Linked DNA regions of Homo sapiens: region 1 is linked to region 2. Evidence: fine-mapped expression QTL. A gene starts in region 2. The other region holds a variant in brackets. All regions are shown on one strand. Distances are from middle to middle.

Region 1 (10,318 bases), 49 kb before region 2:
ACTATTATTTCTAACATTTATTATTTATTATTTAACAAGAAGGGAAACTTTGAAGAGGAACTTTTTACTTTCCACAATTTCCCCCTCTTGATTTTATAGTTTTTCCTCTTCAAACTTTCTTAATATGTCTTGGCTTAGTTGTTCTGCCTGAGTCTCTTAAAAAAAAAAAAAAAAGCTTCTCTGAATAAGGTGGAGTAGAGTTAAGGGAGGTTTTAGTAAGAGCCATTTTCATTAACCTTTGCACCAACTCTCGGATGCATGGTATAACACAACACCCAAAAAGAAGGAGTATACTTATTACAGTTGCTAAAGAGGTAAGAATTGAGGCTACAGTCTCTTTTCATTGGCCAAACCACCCTTCTAGCCATTTTAAAACAGGGTTATTAATTCCAGAATTTTTAGCTAGTTCTTCAGGTAAAGCAGTAAGGCCTTGTAGGGCCATCATTATGCTGCCATTGGGAGCAGTGTTGTTTGGGATGAAGGTACAACATTGGATTTTAATCATAACACAAATACCACCTTTTTCAACTAATATCATATCCAAAGCCATTCTGTTTTCCCAGGCCATTTGGCTAGTGGACCCTAACTGTTCCACTCTTCCATTGACAGCATCTTTAGTGTAATTAATAAACCGTTGTTGATTGTAAAAAATATAGTTTTTCCAATCTTTGTTTTTATTAACTGTTATCCATGGGAGGATAGATTCAAACCCTGCAGCTATTTGGAATCCCTAGCTTTATATTCATCTGGTACACCCTGTGGAATGCTAATTGCATCTAAATAGACGTGGGGGTTGAAAGACCAGTAAGGGGCTTCTCTTGTTTTACGATGTCATGTTTTTTCTTTTTCTGGTTGATGAAATGTCAGGGTAAAAGGGACAGCCAATTGAACTAGAGCACAAGTACCACTCCAATTATTTGGCAGAGTGTCCAGTAAAGGTCCTCCACAATACCACCAGACATCTGCTCCGGGATGAATAAGGACGGACTGATGGGTCAGCTCTTGGCAGTGCCTGACCTCACTGCATCCTGTTAAGTCTCCAAGGAACACCAAATTTTCCCCTTGTCGTTGGAGACATGAGGTAAAGTTGCTCTTGGAAGATGGAGGCTGGATGGCCTGCGGGGGCTGACCCGCAGGATGCTGCACTTCAGGAAATAGCAGAGAGACAGTTTGGCACAGTTCATTATCCCAGGCTGTAGGATTTTGAAAAACAGCTACCATGCAGTCCATGTCTTGTCGATTAGAGGGCCATCTGAGTGGAAAGGGGACAATCTGGGCCTCTGGCCTACCATGTGTAGGAGCGTAACAATCGCTTTTATTTAAAGTGCAGATGGAATATTTAATCCATTCTAGCCAGGCATTTACATCCTGATACCCTGTCTCAATTGCTATGGTTTGCCTTAGGTTTTCTACTTTTACTACGGAGATTTTGGTTTTGTCATTGTGTCTGGGAGGAGTGATTGATAGAGGTTGAAGAAGCAATAAAGCATATTTCAAAAATTCCCTTACTATCTTTCCTGAAATGTCAGCTCCCATACCATAAATATGACTTAATGAAGGGGAAGAGTTTTCAGATGTTGCAATAGTAATAGTAAGCTGTATAGGATTACACTGGTTATATTGACAGCTAGAAGGAGTAATTCTTTTGGTGAAATGAATATATGGTTTTAAGGACTGACAAAGACCCGTGGAAGCAGTCTATCTTAGACCTTTAGTGTTCCATAGGACATTAGACCAAGCAGAACATAGAGATTCTGTTTTAGAGGGACAAGAGTCTGATTCCCACCAATTAATACAACTAGTATTCTCTGGATTACTAGTATCCTTGCAGGAACTCAATATGTCTTCCCAATCTGAGGAAGTCCAAGAGGGACAGAGATATTTTTCCGAAGTAGTAAACTGTCTTTGGTTATGCAAATCTCCACAGGGTATAACTAAACAGGCATCAGAAGTAATAACTTGAGGTGAGTTAGATCTAGTTACGTTAATAATAAGATGGGGAGTAGTTAAAGGGAAGAAAAGAAAAATAAAAGATAGATAGATTAAGCTTTTCTTAACTTTAATTTGGTAGGGCTTGATCCTGGAACAATGACCCACGATTCCGAAGGTGATGACGTTTTCTTGACTTGGGTGTGATGTGTTCATCCTTTTTCTGCTGTGCCAATGGCAGTCTCGGTGGTTAGCAGCACGAGGTAGGGTCCTTCCCAGGCTGGCTCGAGTTTTGCTTCTTTCCGTCCTTTGATGGTCCCCAGGCTGGTGCTGGTGTACTGGAAATTCTAGGGGTGGTGCCTGTGCTAGAAGACCTCTGGTTTTAAGTGAAAAAAAGGTAGAGGAGAGACCAAGTATATAATTTCTGAGAAACTGATCCTTTGATTCAAATGTGGGGGCATGAGCAGTGGAATATAAGTAAGGCAACCCATATAACATTTCATAAGGGGACAGGCCAACATCTTTCCAAGGGGAGGTTCTAATCCTTAATAAAACAATAGGAAGGCATTTAGCCTATGGCAACCGGGTCTCTAGGACTAATTTAGTTAGGTGGCTTTTAAGGGTTTGGTTCATCCTTTCTACTCTCCCTGAGGAGGATGGGTGCCAAGGAATGTGATATTCCCACTTTATGTCTAGTACTTGAGCCAACTTTTTAATGATATGTGCAGTAAAATGGGTTCCATTGTCTGAATCAATGTTTTCTATTAGTCCGAACCTGGGTGTAATATGTTCAATTATTGCTTTAACTACATTACTAGCGGTTGCACTTGAAAAAGGGATAGCCTCTACCCAATGGGTGAAATGATCTACTATTACCAATAAATACTTTAGCTGACCAGGTGGGGGCATTTCAGCGTAATCAACTTGGACACTTTGAAATGGTCTTAGTCCTGGATTTCTTCCTCCAAGTGGTAATTTTCTTAGGGCTTGTTTATTTGTTTTCTTACAAATTAGACAACTGTCTTTAACTTGTTTTGCTAAAGTATAAATCTCAATATACCCATAAACCCTGAGAACTGCATCACACATAACTTGGGGCTCCAGTGAGTTCTTTGATGTAGTTAAGATAAAACCTCCCTCAAAAGAGGCTTAGATAATATTTCTTTCTGGTCTGGGAGTATCTATTTCCCTTCTGAATTCCTTTGAGCTCCTATTTTTACTAATTTTTCCTTCTCAGTATGACAGAAAATAGGAACTACAGTGGGAGAAGGAAGACAAGGAGTTAAGTGAAAGATGGTGTCTCAGAGGAAACAGCAGCTTGCTTGGCTCTTTGATCCACAAGAGTATTTCCTCAACTTTCAAAATAAAAGTTGTGTTGGTGTCCTGGAACATGGACAATGTCTATTTCCTCTGGTAACTGAAGATTATTCAGGACACAATTAATGTTTCATAAGCAAGATCTTGACCTTTACTATTAATAAGGCCCCGTTCGGCCCAAATTTTTCCAAATGTGTGAGACACCCCAAAAGCATACTTAGAGTCAGTATAGATGGTTCCTACCTGGTTCTATAAGTATTTTAGGGCCTGGCTAAGTGCAAATAGCTCACAGGCTTGGGGAGACCAACTATTGGGTTATCTTCCTGATTCAACTTCTTTGAGAGTTTCCCCATCGATTACTGCATACCCATTATGTCGTTTTCCCTCAATTACCTGGGAGGAACCATCTGTAAATAAAGCTGCCCTGTCTTAAAGGGGGTTTCTACTAAATCTGGGCTGACTTTCGTATGGTAGTCAATTAAATCTAGACATAGGTGTTCCCTTTTTAGCAGTGGGTTCCCTGTCAAGAAACCCACTGGGTTAAGTGAATTGTCTGTAGTTAAGGTTAAATCATCTTTTTCTAATAGGATAGCTTCATATTTTAAAATTCTGGAGTCAGTGAGCCATCTTCCTGCCTTTTGGCTTAGGATAGCTTGACTTGTTGAGGTGTACTCACTGTCAGATATCCTCCAAAAGTTAATTTCCTGCTTTCTTCAACCAATATCACCGTGGCCACAATGGATTGAATACGCTGAGGCCATCTGCAGGCGACTGGATCTAGAACTTTTGACAGGAAGGCCACTGGCTGTCGGCAGCCCCCATGTTCTTGGGTAAGCACTCCTAGAGCCACTCCATTATCTACGTTAACAAAAAGATGAAATGGTTTTTCTAGAGAGGGTAGGGCCAGGACAGGAGCAGTTATGAGTCTTTCCTTTTACTCCCCAACCTGATCAACCTCTTCAGAAGTCCATATGAAGAGATCAGGTTCTCCTTTAGTTAGCTTCTCATATGGAAGTTTACTTTTTAATGCATATGAGTCAATCCATAAATGGCAGTATCCAACTAACCCTAAAAATTTCCTGAGTTCTTGCTTGGTTTGAGGCAAGGGCAAAGACACAATTCCTTTGACCCATTTGGGTCCTATTCTTCCTTTGTCTGCATTTATTAAATGGCCTAAGTATTTAACTTCAGGTTCTACATATTGAAGCTTTCTCTTTGAGACCCATACCCTTCAAACTGTAAGTGGTTAAGAACGTGTGTAGAAAACCCAGCTACCTTCTCTATGTCTTCTCCAGATATAAGAATATCATCCACATATTGGAGCAAACGTAGCTGCTTTGGGACAACAACTTTTTCTAATACTTGCTCTAAGATTTGACCAAAAAGATTGAGTGAATCTGTAAATCCTTGGGGTAAAACTGTCCATCTATACTGTTGTTTCCATCTTGAATGGGGACCTTCCCATTCAAAAGTAAATATATCCTGGCTGTCTTCAGCCAAGGGACCTGCCCAGAATGCATCCTTTAAGTCTATTACTGTGAACCACTGATGACTGTGTGAAATTTTACTAAGAATGGTGTAAGGGTTGGGTACAACAGAATGAGTGGTCTGGACTATTTGATTGATAGCTGTAAGGTCCTGCACTAGTTGGTATGACCCATCTGATTTTTTGACTGGTAAAATTGGAGTGTTGTATGAGGACATACAAGGTTCAAGTAGTCCATCTTTAATAAGACTCTCAATTACAGGCTTTAACCCTACCCTTCTTCTAAAGGGATAGGGTATTGCTTTCTTCTCACTACCTCCCCTGGAGTCCTTAACCTGATATGTATTGGAGGAATTCGTAGCTTTCCTCAGTTTCCTTCCCTTGGCCAGACATCGA[G/A]ATGAATGGACTTCTCATCTGCTGTGGTAAGCAAATTTAAGGAAGTTAGAACACCCTTTGGGCCAACTTGCAGACCTATACCTAGTTTTAACATTGAATCTCTCCCTAACAGATTGGTTCCTGCTTCAGGAATTAACAAAAGTTGAATACAAGTTGACTGATCTTGGTATTTTGCTTCTGTATTTTCTAAAACTTTCTCCTTAAATTCTTCTCCTTTTACCCCAGAAACTAGCAATTCCTCTGTAGAACAAGTTAAATCAGCTGGGGGAAAACAAACAGACAAGCAAGCAGCTCCTGAGTCAATTAAAAAGGTGATTAATTCATGTTTGGGTCTCACCTCTAAATGTATCAAGGGTTCCTGGTGGGACTCAAAATAGAAAAGACAGAGCCCCTGACCCCCCTATTCCTCTTCAAAGGTAGTCATGAGTGGAAGAGCTTCTTCTACTTTTTCTAATTCCGGACATTACCTATTAAAATGGTCTGGTCTTCCACATTTGTAACATCTGTCTTGTCCTTCCTCTCTCCCAAGCCCAGGGCCCCTTTGTCTTTCCTCCTTACCTTCACATCCACAGCCCTTACAGCACTTACTTTGACCTTCTCCCTTAACGTACTGATCTTGCCTTCTTTCTCTTTGCATTCCTGAGTTCCCTGACTTTCTTCTTTCACCTTCTCTAGAAAACTTTGCAGGTGTGGGTCTAAACTTAGCCCCTGGTATCATTTGTCCTGGTGAACTCTGTCAAAAGATTTTTGCTTTCTGTCTCTGCCTTTCTTCATCTCTACTTACATATACTTTTTGGGCTTCTCTCAAAAGCTCTTCTATTGACCGATTCTTCCAATTTTCCAGTTTTTGCAATTTTCTTGCAATATCTGGCCAACTGTTAATAATAAAGTGCAACTTTAACAATCCTAGCCCAAAGGGGCTTTCTGGGTCTAAACCAGCATATTTTCTCATCTGTTCCCTCACTCTGTCTAGAAACTTCATAGGCCCTTCATCTTTTTCTTGCTGTATATCAAAATCCTTAGAGAGATTTTGAGGTCGGGACACTGATTCCCAAATTCCTCTAACTATCATTTCCCTTAAATCTCTCATGTTATCCCTGTGGGCTGCAATATTGTTATCCCACTCCAGGTCTTGGCTGGAAATTTTGGTCTGCTGCCAGAACATTTTGGCCCAGAGGATGGTCACACTCCCAGACCACCACAGCAGCTCTGCGGATCATGTTCTGCTCTTCCCCTGAAAAGAGGATACCTAGGATGGACATTAATTCAGCCCAGGTATATAACTGCGGGCCTAAAAACTGATCAATTTGATCTGCCACTCCATAAGGATCATCTAATAATGGCTTGAGTTCTTTTTTTTTAAGACTTCGGACTTCGGAACCAGTTAAGGGAGCATTTACAAGGCAAATTGCCCCCCCTTGTGGTACCTCCCTTAAAAGAAAGAACTTTGAAGATGAATCCTTAGAAGTGGGGAGGGGGAAAGGAAGACTCTGAATATCCTTTCTACATTGTTGTATTTCCCGTTGAAGTCCTTTCTTTAAAGAAGGATATTCAGACTGACAAAACTTGGGTCCCTGGGACAATAACTTCCAGGAGTCCGGGTTGTATGGGGGAGGAATAACCTGAGTATGAGGATCCAGAGGAGAGTCTGGAACTGGGTCTGGGATGGGGTTTGGGGCGGCGGCAATTGCTTGAGGAGGGAGTGGTGGGTTTTTGAGAAGTGGGGGATGGTGGTCTAGAGGGTCCCACTTACTCGTGGATGTCTTAGAAGTAGAAACTTTGTTCTCAGATGAGACAGCCTCTGAGTCCTTTTTACCTTCTAGTTCCTTCCCATCTATTCTTAGCGGGTAGAGAAGAACGGCCCCTGCCGCCAGCACAGAGCATAGTCTATTTCTTCTTGTGAGAGAGGACTCTTGTCATTAACATACATTATTAGGAGTTGACAAACCCAGTCCCCATCCAACCCAAACTTTGGCCAGAAAACTGTGGGCTTGAGGATTGGCTCTTTAGTCCAAATAAAGCAGCAATACTTTATCATTTGCTGCTTTCCCTTGAGTTTAGTCCTCTCATTGTCTTTCCAATACTTTAACATAAGCCCTAAAGGACTATCGGTGGGGGGGATTTGACCATCTGCATTCTTTCCCTTCCCTGTTTTACTAGAAATATTCCCTATACTGAGTACCAGTTAGACTCAACCTCTCGACCCAGAGTTTTCTTGCTTATCCCGTTTTCCAGAGGCTTGCTTAAAACAACCTCACGTATGGCCGGGCGCAGTGGCTCACACCTGTAATCCCAGCACTTTGGGAGACCAAGTCGGGTGGACCACGAGGTCCGGAGATCGAGACCATCCTGGCTAACATGGTGAAACCCCATCTCTACTAAAAATACAAAAAATTAGCCAGGAATGGTGGCGGGCACCTGTAATCCCAGCTACTTGGGAGGCTGAGGCAGGAGAATGGCATGAACCCGGGAGGCAGAGCTTGCAGTGAGTGGAGATCGCACCACTGCACTCTAGCCTGGGTGACAGAACAAGACTCCATCTCAAAAAACAACAACAACAGCAACAAAATAACAAACAAACAAACAAACAAACAACCTCACGTGCTTGAGGTTTTTCACCCTTCTTTTCCCAGGGAGGATTCTAACTATTCCCCCTCACCTTCTGGAGGTCTCTTTCACTCCTTTCCTTTTGTTTTGCCCTCTCTTACCTCTAAGCCATATGAAATGATTACAGAATTTGCAGAGAGGACCCACTCACACCATACTCACGCATGCACACTCACACTCAACCTCCAGAATTTTGACCATCAAGGAAATACTTTGTCACCCCCTTGTGATGTTTCTTACCTTGGTATGTGCACAGAATTACCTGGTCACAGCAGTGTTGCAAGCCCTTCTTTCCCCGTGTTGCTAAGAGCCCGGGTTTATTCATTGCAAAGGATGGGTTTTGATCTCCAGCCCTTAAGGCCACCACAACAAGGCAGTGGGGTATGCCTCCCTGAGGGGGTGACCAAAGACCCCTTCTGAAAGGAGAATGGGAATCCCAGAGGAGCCTCCAGAACTGTTAGAAGTAAATGCTTATTCCTCAGTGCCACAAGGAAAAACTAGCATTCAGACAAAAAGTTTTCTCAGCAAGGCAATTTTACTTTCTGCAGAAAGGGTGCTACTTATCAGCAATCTTGCCATGAGAGCACACTGAACAAACAAATCAGGAATATTTATCCCTTACACATTGGATCCTTACTGCTGTGTCCTATCTCCATTGCTTGGAGTCTAAGTCTAAGCTAAATCCGATTGGCTAACAGTCACAGTCTAAGCTAAACCCGATTGGCTAACAACTTAAAACTTTCCTAAATAGGTAAAGGCAATGAAGAACAAAAGGAAAAGAGGAAGTTGCTTGCAAAAGGACTTAGAGAAGTAATAACATTTCCAAATAAGAAAGGGGCATAGGCTGTGAACTGGGACATGCCAATATCTTGGTTAAAGTACAAGGACATAGGATGTACTTATTTCCTTATATCTAACATCTACATAGGATAGGGCTTAATAAAGGGTTATTAGCAAAAAGCAAGAAGGCTTTGAAGGAAGTTAGTCTTTAAAAGAAACTATTATTTCTAACATTTATTATTTATTCTTTAACAAGAAGGGAAACTTTGAAGGAAGAGGAACTTTTTACTTTCCACATTTGCTAAAAGTTAGCAGTATAACATGTATTATCCTAACTTCTAATCTTGTGGCCTTAGGCAGCCTAGTCCACCGACATGAAGGAAGTTTGCTTTGGAGAAAACTAGTTATCATCTCTGACATTTAAAAAAGGAGAATTTATATAAAAAGAATCTTATATGGTAAATTCTTGTCCTAAAATAAATTAACTGGTTGTTTAAAGAAAGGGATGTTTGCAACAAGTCAGAAAGTTGAGGCATGTTGAAGATTATCTGTGAAAGTTGTGAAAAATGTTATAAAGGGGAATTTATGCAAGAAATGTTGTATAATTTAAAAGTAATTAGGCCTCCTGAATGTAAAACTATTGAAGAAACAGTTTATATGCAAGGTGTGTAAGGAAAGTAAAATATACTTTTGGTAAAAGGAGTATAAGAAAGTATAATAATGTGGATTTTTACCTACATTAAAAGGTTAAAAAAATGTGTTTTGAAGGTTTAAGCAAGCTTTGAAACGTTAATTGTAAAGGAAATTCTGTGTGTAAACATATTGGCTAAAGTTAAGGGGGTATCATCCAGTTTTTCTGCGAACTGGACATTAAAAAAAAGCACAACAGGTTTTTCTTAAAGCACTAAACTGCTCTTTAACAAAAATCATAAAGGGTTAAAAAGAGTAAAAATTTTACCTTATGGTCAGACATTAATATTGGATAAATAATGTCTACAAGATTTTATTAAAATTGAGCTTAACATTAATAGCACACTAATATAAAGGTAAAATTTAGCTTATCTGGTATAAAATCATACAGGAAGCATTGTCAAATATAAAGTGGTGTTTGGCTTTCTTTGGTTTAAAAACGAACAAAAATGGTGCTAAAGAAAATTCAGAAGGAAAATGGATATTGCTAGACCAGAGAGAAATGTTATCCAAACCCCTTATGAGGGAAATCTTGTCCCAACTACATCAAGAGACCCACTGGGGGCCCCAAGCCATGTGTAACACAGTCCTCAGAGTTTATAAGTGCATAGAAATGTGTACCCCGGCCAAACAGGTTACAGACAATTGCTTAGTAAAAGATTACCACTTGGGGGAAGGAGTCCAGGCTTAAGCCCATTCCAAAGTATCCAAATCGATTACACAGAGAAGCCTCCAACTGGTCGTCTAAAGTATTTATTAGTAATAGTAGATCACCTTACTCATTGGGTAGAAGCTATTCCCTTTTCAAGTACAAATGCTAATAATATAATCAAGGCATTAGTTAAAAATATTATACCCAGGTTTAGATTAATAGAAAACAGTGATTCAGATAATAGGACTCATTTCACAGCACATGTCACTAAGAAATTAGCACAGATACTGGATATAACATGGGGATATCATACTCTCTGGCATCCACCTTCATCAGGGAAAGTAGGAAGGCATATTACCCTGTGAAGAGTCCGAACTGCTCCCCCAAAAGACAGGCCTGTCCCCTTATGAGATGCTCTATGGATTGCCTTATCTACATTCTACTACTGATCTCTCTACATT
Region 2 (10,318 bases):
GAAGAGCAGGAAGAGGCGAGAAGGGTATTCCCAGCAAAGAGAATGACACATGCAGAGCTACAGGGACACTGTATTTTCAGGGCAGCTGAAAGGGTGAGAAAAGCTACAGAGGTCACGGAAGTGGTGGTCAATGTCCCTGTATGCCATGCCAGGGAGTCTGGACTTCACCCTGAAAGCAATGGGGAATGATTGCGAAAGAAGAGGAATGACAGCAGATTTGCATTTTAGAAATATCACTTTGATCACAAAAAGACAGGTCATGGGGTAGTGTGTGGTATCTTTGGGGGAAGGGAGGAGAGTCAGGGGCTGTTGTCAGTAATCCAGATGAGGGCTGACAGTAAGAAGATGTTCTGGAGTTACCGTGTGCCTTAGTTGGCACTACTCCTTCTGACAATGCCATTCGTTTGGGATTAATTTTTATTAGGGTTGTATTTATTAGATCTCCATTTTAATATACATGTCTTCTAAAATAAATTACAGGCTGGGTGTGGTGGCTCATGCCTGTAATCCCAGCACTTTGGGAGGCCGAGGCCAGTGGATAACTTGAGATCAGGAGTTCGAGACCAGCCTGGCCAACATGGTGAAACCCCGTCTCTATTAAAAACACAAAAATTAGCCAGGCATGGTGGCGCACGCCTGTAATCCCAGCTACTCGGGAGGCTGAGGCAGGAGAATCACTTGAACCTGGAGGCAGAGGTTGCAGTGAGCCAGAATGGTGCCACTGCACTCCAGTCTGGACAACAGAGCAAGACTTCATCTCAAAAAAATAAAGTAAAATAAAATAAAATGAAATAACATACAAACTCCTTGAAGACTAAAATAAAAGGTTAAAAGAGTAAATTTTTTAACATGTATTTCGTCACAGTTTAAAAAATGCAAAACTGGCCCAGGCAAGCATGCACCTTGCCGCCTTCATGAACAACTCCGTAACTGGCTGAGCCGCCCCAGGGCTAGTCAAAACACAGCAGAGAAGAGGTCAGCCGGAAATGTCCCAAGGTGCACTTACTTCCCCCATGCAGTGCCAAGAATGCAGGTCCTAATGCTGGCTCTGCCACAGCTTGTAATCTGACCTCAGGCAAGTCTCTCCTCCCCTCCATGGGACTCAGTTTCCTCATCTGTAAAATGATCTCCTGGGGTAGGAGAGTACAGGGGCTCCGAGCCCAGGCTCTATAGTTAGGCAGCCCTGGGTCTCACTGGCTTCAGCACTTCCTTGCATGTAGTCTTGAGTCATGTACTACTGTGGGGTGTTTATGGACCGGCCACTGCACACCAGCTTGGTGCTAAATATGCAGCTGTGCTAACCTCAGTCCCATTTAATCCTCACAACAGGCTAAGGGGCAGACACCATTGTTTTCTCCACTTTACAGACAAGGGGATGGGCAAAGTGACTGCCCACAGTCACAGAGATGCGAAGAGGCAAAGCTAGGATCCGAGTCCAGTGGTCTGACCCAAAGGCCTTTCACACTCCCTAGGATGTGCAAGACCCTCCTGAAATCTTTGCAGACAGCCAAGTCATCATGTGCCGGCGGCTTGCCTGGTGGCCCCATCCCCTGTGGACCCATCTTACCTCCCCATCCAAAGCAGGACCCACCTTCAGCCCAGTTCACCTTCAGCCCAGTTCCAATGCTGAGAAGCACAATCAGCAGATGAGTCACACCTGGGAGGATACAAAAATCTTCCCCACTGACCCATGCATGCAAAAAAATCCCTCCTGAAGTTGCCCAGAAACCCCACATAGAACTTCACTCCTGTGCAGCAACTCTTCACTGCAACAGGATGGTACTGGTGTCCAGTAGTGCCCAACTACACCACTTAATGTTGTGTGGCTGTGGAGAAGTCACCTTCACTCTCTGAGCCAGTTTCCTCATCTGTGAAATGGGAACAATATTAACTGCCCCAGTGGGGTCTTTGTGAGGATTAAATGGAAGGAGATATATATATACACACACATACACATACTGCTCACTACTGTATGGGGCCTAGGCCACTCCTGGACAGCTCCACGCTGCGAGTGTTGGGATAGTTATCTGTAAAATGGGCTAACGATGTCATAGGGTAGAGGAGGTGGGGAGAGCCAATGAGATGGCATGGTGAGGGGCTCGGAACAGTACCTGGCTCAGTAAATGTCAGAGGCCAGAACCTCAGTAAATGTCGGAGGCCAGAACCCCAAGGGGATGGCACTGAAGGGAGGGCCGGGTCCCTTGCTGATATTACTCACTAAGTTATCTCCCAATTCTTCCCTGGACCAGCCCTGTGCCTCAGGCAGCCAGGATGTGGGGAAGGGAGGGAAGGTGTGGGCAGAAGCCTGGACCAGGAATCAGATGTTGATCCTAACTATGCAGTTCTTCATCCTTTCCCTGTGCAACCTTAGGAAAGTCAGCTATCTTCTCCGGGCGGGTGGCAGTCTTCTCATCTGTAAACAGATGGTTTGAGCAGTCCTATCTGCTCTCAGCATTGTAGAATGCTGTAACTCAGAGACCAGCACTTGGCTTTGCATTGTCTCCAAATGGAATTCTCCACCCACCTTTCCTTGATGTTAGCAATAATTCCCACAAGGAGCACTCACGATATGCCAGGAACTGTGCCTCATCTCCCAACAGCATTGTGAGAAAGGCCCTGTTACTGTCAACTGCCAGATGGGGTGACCAAGGCACACAGGGCTGGCAGGCTGCCCCTCAACATCTCCACCCCCAGGCCAGCCCAGCAGGGCCTGTGCCTCACCAGGTGCAACCGATGGAAATCAGGTCCACTGTGGAAGCTCTGCCTCCCTCACCAGGAAGCAAACCCTTGTTGGCAGAGACCTGGCCCAAACCTTGAATTCTTTGGGCTGGGAGGGATTTCAGGCACCAGCTTGATTCCTCCTCCTGCACACGCACATGCACACGCACACACACACACGAAAAATGGAGGCCTAATGAGGCGAGAGGCTCTCTTGCCTCTCTGTGCTGTCTATGCTGATCTCATTCTCAGAAAAAGGCTGTAAAGTAAATCTCTAGACCCTCAGCTCTCCCCTACACCCCCTCCTCTCTCTCTCTCTCTCTCTCACACACACACACACACACACACACACACACACAACCCGTCAGGGACAAAGGAAAGCGAGTCCCGAGATTCAGCAGCCGCTGCAGCCCCTTCTCCCTCTCAGGGCCTCTTTGTGTGGGGCCAGAGGGGGAGGGGGCTGCCTGAATGAACCTCAGATTTAATGAGGGGAAGAGGAAAGGAGAGGGGGGCTGGGGAAAGGGAAGGGAGAACGGGCCTCCCAGCCGGGGTCTTGCTGGAGCCCCTCCCCTCTGCGGCTGCAGCTACAGAACAGAGGTTGGCCTCCCCACAGGTCCCGAACCCGCGACCGGGCACTCCCCGCGCACACCCGAACCTCCCTCGATTCCTGCTCTCCCAACCCAGAGTTCCGCCCGGTGGTCCGTGACGACCCGCACCCGCCTCACTCGAGGGCAGCTAAGAAAGTCCGGGGCTCCCTCCGCTCCCATCCCAGTCTCCGCGCTGGGGCCCAGATGATCCGGGGCGAGCTGGGGAAGTGCCTGAGAGGCAGCGCGAGCCAGACTGAGGACGGTAAAGGGACCGCAGAGAGACTGAGGGACGGACGGGCGGACGGGCAGACGGACAGAAGACAGCAGACGGACAAAGACAGTCGGACGAACGACGGACACAGACAGGAACCAGACAAATACGAACGGACAGGCGGAGCCCGAGCGACAGGAACAGGCGGACTGGCAGGCGGCCAGAGGGGTAGGGCAGGGCACTCGCCAGGAGGGACGGGGCCCGGGCGACCTACACAGAGAACCAGGGCGTCCGGGACGGGGACAGAGGCCACCCCGAGGACCGCCCCAAGTGGGGCGACGAGGGCCCACAGAGCTGCCCCGACCCCGGGCTCCAGGCTTAGTCTCTCCAGGTCCCAGGAGGGCGCCCGCCGAGGGCACTCCCCTCCTGCCCGCGGAAACCCGAGCCGGGACCGCAGCTGCCCGGCGCCTGCCGGCCAGGACTGAGCAGGGGGACGGGGGCAGCGGGATCCGGGTGCCGAGTGAAGGTCCAGGAGGGCGAGCAGGCGGGGCACCGGCCCAGAAAGACAAGTTTGCAGGAAGGAAAAAGAAGAAACTACTCGGAGCAGAACAGAAGAAAGTGAGGGCCCGCAGCAGGAACGGGCGGCGCGCGCGGGCGGGCGCCGGGGTCGGGACTCACGCAGCTGAGCAGGGAGCAGGCTCCCAGGCAGGCCCCCATGGCGGCGGCTCCCGGCTTCGGGCGCCCGGCGCCGGGCGCGGGGCGCGGACCTCGGGATCCGGGTGCCGGGCCTGGCCCCTCCCCGGCCCCGGCCCCGCCCCGGCCCCGCCCCACCTACCGAAGCCGCTCGACGCTTTCCGGCGGCGCTCGGGGCCTCCCCAGACTCACCTGGGGCAGGTGCGCCAGGAGGGACCCTAGGGAAGGGGCCGGTCGGGGATTCCCGCGGCCACGCGAGCGGCGCAACCTGACCCAATCGTGGCCCGGGCTCGCATCCTGCTCCAAAGTGAGCGTTCGGAAATCGACCTCGGTTTGAGCCCGTGTGACCCCAGGACACTGTCACCCTTGGGAACAGAAGCCAAGAGGTGGTCACCGCTGACTCCTCAGTGCTTGGCGCAGGGCCTCTGCTCAATACGTAGATGCTGAGGTTGAATGCTGAATGACTGGATAAAGAAACTTCGGCAAGTCACTGCACCTCTATGAGCCTCAGTTTCCCGGTCTGTAAAGTGAGGATACATACCTCACAGGGTGGTTACAACACATGGTAGGTGCTTGACAAATGTAAGCCCCCATCGTCACTGTTTTCTTCTTCCTTTTTAAGAGACAGGGTCTTGCTCTGTCACCCAGGCTGGAGTGCAGTGGTGCAAACATAGCTCACTGCAGCCTCGACCTCCTGGGCTCAAGTGATCCTCCTGCTTCAGGCTCCTGAGTAGCTGGGACTACAGGTGCATGCCACCATGCCCACCTACTGCTTCTTCTAAGACCCCAGCCTCTCACTCTAAACCCATCCTCCCTTCTCTCCATCTGTTCTTCAAACTCCACTGACTCCCAACAGCCTGCTGGGAGCTACACACTCCCTACAGCCACCCCTGCTTGGTGGCTTATCACTCCCTAGGGATGCCCAAACTGGTCCCTAGCTAAGGAGGTCAGAAGGTGGGGAGGGGCGGCCACATTCCTGACAGATGGCTTTCCAGGGGTAGGTGTGAGAGACCCAGAAGTAGGGCTCTGTAATTAGTCTCCCTTCACCCTTAGCCCTGTCCTCAGCCACCTCTGGACAAGATAATGTTAGGGAAAGAAGTCTCTGTGCCTCGAAGCTGGCCCCAGGGCCAAAGAGCTGGTTGACTGCATCCTTGGCTGATTCACTGGGCGCCAGGCTTAGCCATTAATTGCACCAGGACTGTTCCACAAACACACCCTATACTTTTCCTCCTCCGCACTTTTGCCCACACAATGCCCTCCTCTTTTTTTTTTTTTTTTTTTTTTTTTTTGAGACAGGGTCTCACTCTGTCACCCAGGCTGGAACACAGTGGCCCAATCATGGCTCACTGCAGCTTCAACCTCCTGGACCCAAGTGATCCTCCCACCTCAGCCTCCCAAGTAGCTGTGACCACCAGTGTGTACTACCACACCCAGCTAATTTTTTAAAAATTTTGTGTAGAGATGAGGTCTCCTTATGTTGTCCAGGCTAGTCTCGAACTCCTGGGCTTAAGCAATCCTCCTGCCTTGGCCTCCCAAAGTGCTGGTATTACAGATGTGAGGCACTGCACCTGGCAGATGCCCTCCTCTTAAAGGTCCTTCTCCTTATCCCTCTTTCTCCCCTTTGAAGCTTGCTCACATGCCATACCTCTCAGTGAAGAGAGCCACCACCCTCACCCCCAACCCACTACCTGGTTCCATTAGGAATGAACATCCTCCTGATTCCCCCAAGCCTCCAAACAATATGGGCCTCCCTTATGGCCTCACAAACAACCCGAGCACATGCCCAACTTTCCCCCGTGGTACCATTTGAGCCCCACAACAGCCCTGAGAAGTCGATTAATTCCCCACCCACTCGTTTACAGATGAGGAAACCGAGAAACAAAGAAGTAGTGACACGCGAAATGTAAATCAAGCGTCGAATAAACGTTGACTGTGATCACTGTGGTTGTTGTTACTATTGCTGAAGGCCACACAGCTCAGAAGAAACAGAGCTGAAAGGCAACCTGGCCTGGCTTTCACCCTGATGTCCTACTGCTTCCCTTGAAAAAGTAGAGGTGACAATATCTAGTCTTCCTATTTTTCTGTCCAGCAATATTTCAGTCCTTCCCTAACCCGAGGCCTTTAGGGGACTGTGAGCCACCCAAGAACGGTCTGCTCTCTGGCCACCCCCTCTCCTACCCAGAGCACAGTACAGGGCCTGGCACACAGTCAAGCAGTGAATGCTTACTGGATGAATGTCTGACCTTTTACCATAAGTCCACTTTCCTCCTTCTTCTGTGACTGACAGTCTGATCCAAAAACATACCCTACACAGTCATCTTCTGCACGGAAATCCTTTAGACTGAAATGCCACCAAGCAGTCTCAAGTGAGCCCTCCTCACATGCTCCCGTCCCAGGGTCAGCTCCCTTGGACACTTCTGCTCTAAGAGCTGAATTTTTCACCCCCAACCCCTCCCTATCCATGACCTAGAACAGTAGAAAGCACCCAAGACCAAGAGGATCAACCCCTGGGATTCTTGTTCTGCCACAGATGACCATGCCCCATGCCATCCTTGGGGGGCCACTTCACCCCACAAGGGGTGTCCGTCCATCCCCTTCCCGGAAATAGGTAGGGTTATTCTGTTTAACCTCACAGAGCATGTGTGAGCATCTGCAAAGACACTCTCAGAAATAAGCAGTTATCTGCAAGGAACGAGGGATTAAGATGACTGTATGTGTAAAGGGATAGCCACTCTGACTTCAGGCTAAAATTTTCCAGAGCAAGGTAATATGCTGCCACTGTCCTGGCCTCCTGCCTGCCCAAGACCAAGGCCGGCTGGGCTCTCACACGCCCAGCATGGAAGGCATAACTCACTGTGTGGCTGGGTCCGGGTGACTCCTCCTCTCTCAGCCTCATGCTTCTCATCTGTAAAATAAAGATAAGTTTTTTTACCCCAGCTATCTGAGGGGACTACTGAGGAGATGAAGTGAGGACATGGATAAAGAGCTTCATTTCTTGGTGTCCTGGCCAGCCCATCAGCCTTTACTCCCAGATTTGAACCTCCTGCATGGGGCCAGAGTAGCTCTGTCTCTTGCACCCCCAAAAGCACAGTCACAGTCAGCAGCTATGTGATACTGGCAAGTCACCCAACCACTCTGAGCCTCACTGGAGGGTTGGAATTCAGGATTCAGCTTCTCCACCCAATGCTATGTAAACCATGTCCCTTGAAATAAACATGTAGGGGTCATTTGGTCCATTGCCCTGTGCCCATCACCCAGCCCAGACAGATGCTCAACTCCAGTTCCCAAAGGAAGCAGACTCTGACTTCTTGGACCACCCACCCCAAGGTTCTCTAATCTGATCTCACTGGGCCTGAGTTTTCAAATCTGCAACATAGGAACGAACTCCTGCCCCCGCCTCAGTGCCCCCAATCCATTCTCTCCCCATCCCCTCTTACCATCCTCCCGTCCATGAGGACTCAGATGTGTGCCGGCTTTGAGCCCTCCTATCCCTTGGGCTTCGCTGTCTGTACTGGCCTCTATTTCCTGCTTCTGACCCATTTACAGAGCAGGGCCATCCCTTATGAATATGCATATAAGATAATGAGAGCTTGGGATTGGGGGAGCATCTGGGGAGAGGTATTCACATACGCACCATCCACTCTGCTCTCCCCATAAACACCCCCCAACCAAGGCTGTCCTTCCTCACAAAGCGTGCATGGGATTTCAGAGCAAAGGCTAAAGTAACAATAATCATATTCATAGCAAGCATTTTTAAGAGCTTACAACATGCCAGGCACTCTGCTGAGATTATCTCCTTTAAGATGAATTTAAGGTAGGAACTATTGCCCCCATTTAGCAAATAAGGAAATTGATGCTCCAAGAAGTTAGGTAACTTGTACATAAATCATACGGGGAACATGCACAGTGATCATGTGCAGAGCCAGGGTGGAACCCAGGTTTTCTCAGGAGAATGCAATTCCAAAGCTGGTGCTCTAAACCCCTGCGCCCAGATGTTCAGGGCCAAGCCAGGAGCCCTGAGCAGTCATGGGGCCACATCTGGATCTCACATGTCAGCAGATGAGCCCACAGTGGTATTAGGTGATTTTGTGAAAGGACCCAGGTCCTGGAAGGGACTCTATCTGGAAAGTATGGAGACAGGCAGACACGATGCGTGTTCATATGTGTGCAGGCACACAGTGATGCAAGCTTGAGCATGCACACACACACAGGGTGTTCTGTGTGCATGGACGTAACTGTGTGGGGTGGAGGTACCCCTGTGGCTGCCCAGTGTATGTGCCTCTGTGCTGCTCTGGTGACTTTTTTCCAATCAACACTTAGCCACAGGGGGCCAGGAGCTGGGAATGCAGTGTGGATAGGGCAGACACAGTCCCAGCCTGCATGGAGTGGATGGTCTGTGGGATTTGCTTCCCATAACAGTAACACTCTGGAAGGAATCCGTTTCCTTTGTAGGAAGTGACTAGGGGTTGAGAGAGAAGATGGGTAAGAGTGGAAAAGGTAGGACATCTGAGGTAGGTAGCTCAAGGGAGCCTCTGGCACTTGCCAGAAATGTATGGAGGAGACAGCCAGGACCTGGCACCGGCTCCACGACAGTCACAGGTCTGAGGATTCCCAAAGGTCTCCAGATGCTTTCCTTACAGATGTCCAGGGTCTTCTGTGAGTGTATATGTGGGCAGTTTGTGTGTGTTGGGGAGGGGGGGGTGTTTAGGTATATGTGCACAGATGAGCGTGTGTGGTTATGTGAATATGTGCATGGAATGTGCATGTATAAATGTGGGGACATGGGTAAGTCATATATGGTGTGTACGCAGGTGGGGTTTACATGTAGAGGTGGGGGTATGCTTGTGTGTGTGGCAGGGCCTGTTACTGCAAAGGAGAGAAGAGAGTGCCATTTGGCCCAGGCCTCACATTCAGAAGTCTCAAAAATGCATCCAAAAATGAGATGGAATGAAGGGAGGGAGGGAGGGATGGATGGCTAGGTAGATGGATAGGCAGAGGGCTGTCTGTGCAGAGAGATGGACAGAGGGTTGGACAGAGGAATGGATATGTGATAAAGCAGATACTGCAAAATGTTCATTGTAGTCCCCAGGTGCTGAGTATGTGGGTGCTCACTGTACCATTCTTTCAACCCTTCTGGATGCTTGATACTTTTCATAATACAACGAGTACACAAAGTGGGCTGGATGTCTAGCCCCAGAGAATTATGGATGAGATGGGAAGAACAGAATGCTCTTCATGCCATTTGAAACTTACATCCCATCACTGGACCACACAGCAATGTGAAATCACATTTTTTATAATTCTTGTGACGATCTTGTGAGTCTCTCAGTTGCACTGCATTGGATGTGTGTGGGTGCATGTGTGTGTTAAAAAACATTAATTTGTTAAATAAAAACATACCACAGTTGTGAACATCCTATTTAGGACTTTCTTCATTTTTAAATTAGCAGGAGCCTTAAAAGACAGAAGTGGTCTGGCTCAGCCGGGCGCGGTGGCTCGCGCCTGTAATCCCAACACTTTGGGAGGCCAAGGCGGGCGGATCACCTGAGGTCGGGAGTTTGAGACCAGCCTGACCAACATGGAGAAACCCCACCTCTACTAAAAAATACAAAATTAGCCGGGTATGGTGGCGCATGCCTGTAATCCCAGCTACTTGGGAGGCCGAGGCAGGAGAATCGCTTGAACCCGGGAGGTGGAGGTTGCAGTGAGCTGAGATCAGACCATTGCACTCCAGCCTGGGCAACAAGAACGAAACTCCGTCTCAAAAAAAAAAAAAAGAAGTGGCCTGGCTCTTTCCGTCTGTGAGCCCCTACTATGCAGGGTGCGTGTATGGGTTTGCATGTATGTGCACGTGTCAGGGATGTGAGCACACGTGGGTGGGTCAGGCTGACACCCATGTGAGTGCCCACACAGAGAGCTCAGCCTCCTCCAAGCCCCGCTGAGGCCAGCACCACTCTGAGGTGAGGAGGATGTCTTAGGATCGAGGAAGGGCAGCCACCAGCCCCAGGGCAGCATAAGGGACCAGGAACTCTGTCACCTGAGGCTTGGACACGCTCAGGCCAAGCGGCGTCATCCGGCCAGCAGCGAGAGTGTGGGAGGCTGTTTCCTG

The links.
Region 1: its variant is fine-mapped to the expression of SERINC2 in monocytes after Pam3CSK4 (Quach 2016, PIP 0.95).

The regions. Positions count from the first base shown.
Region 1 is chr1:31,456,443-31,466,760 of GRCh38, reverse strand. The region is part of intron 1 of LOC124903900 (a long non-coding RNA gene); the gene reads left to right. Among named protein-coding and RNA genes, the nearest start is that of SERINC2, 48 kb to the right of the region's middle. The variant G/A (reference allele first, on the strand shown) is at 5,129.
Region 2 is chr1:31,407,181-31,417,498 of GRCh38, reverse strand. SERINC2 (serine incorporator 2) reads right to left here and starts at 4,286. Exons shown (of 10, transcript NM_178865.5): 1 at 4,195-4,286. The coding sequence starts at 4,233. RefSeq lists enhancers at 2,219-2,767, 4,038-4,538 and silencers at 4,262-4,321, 4,402-4,471.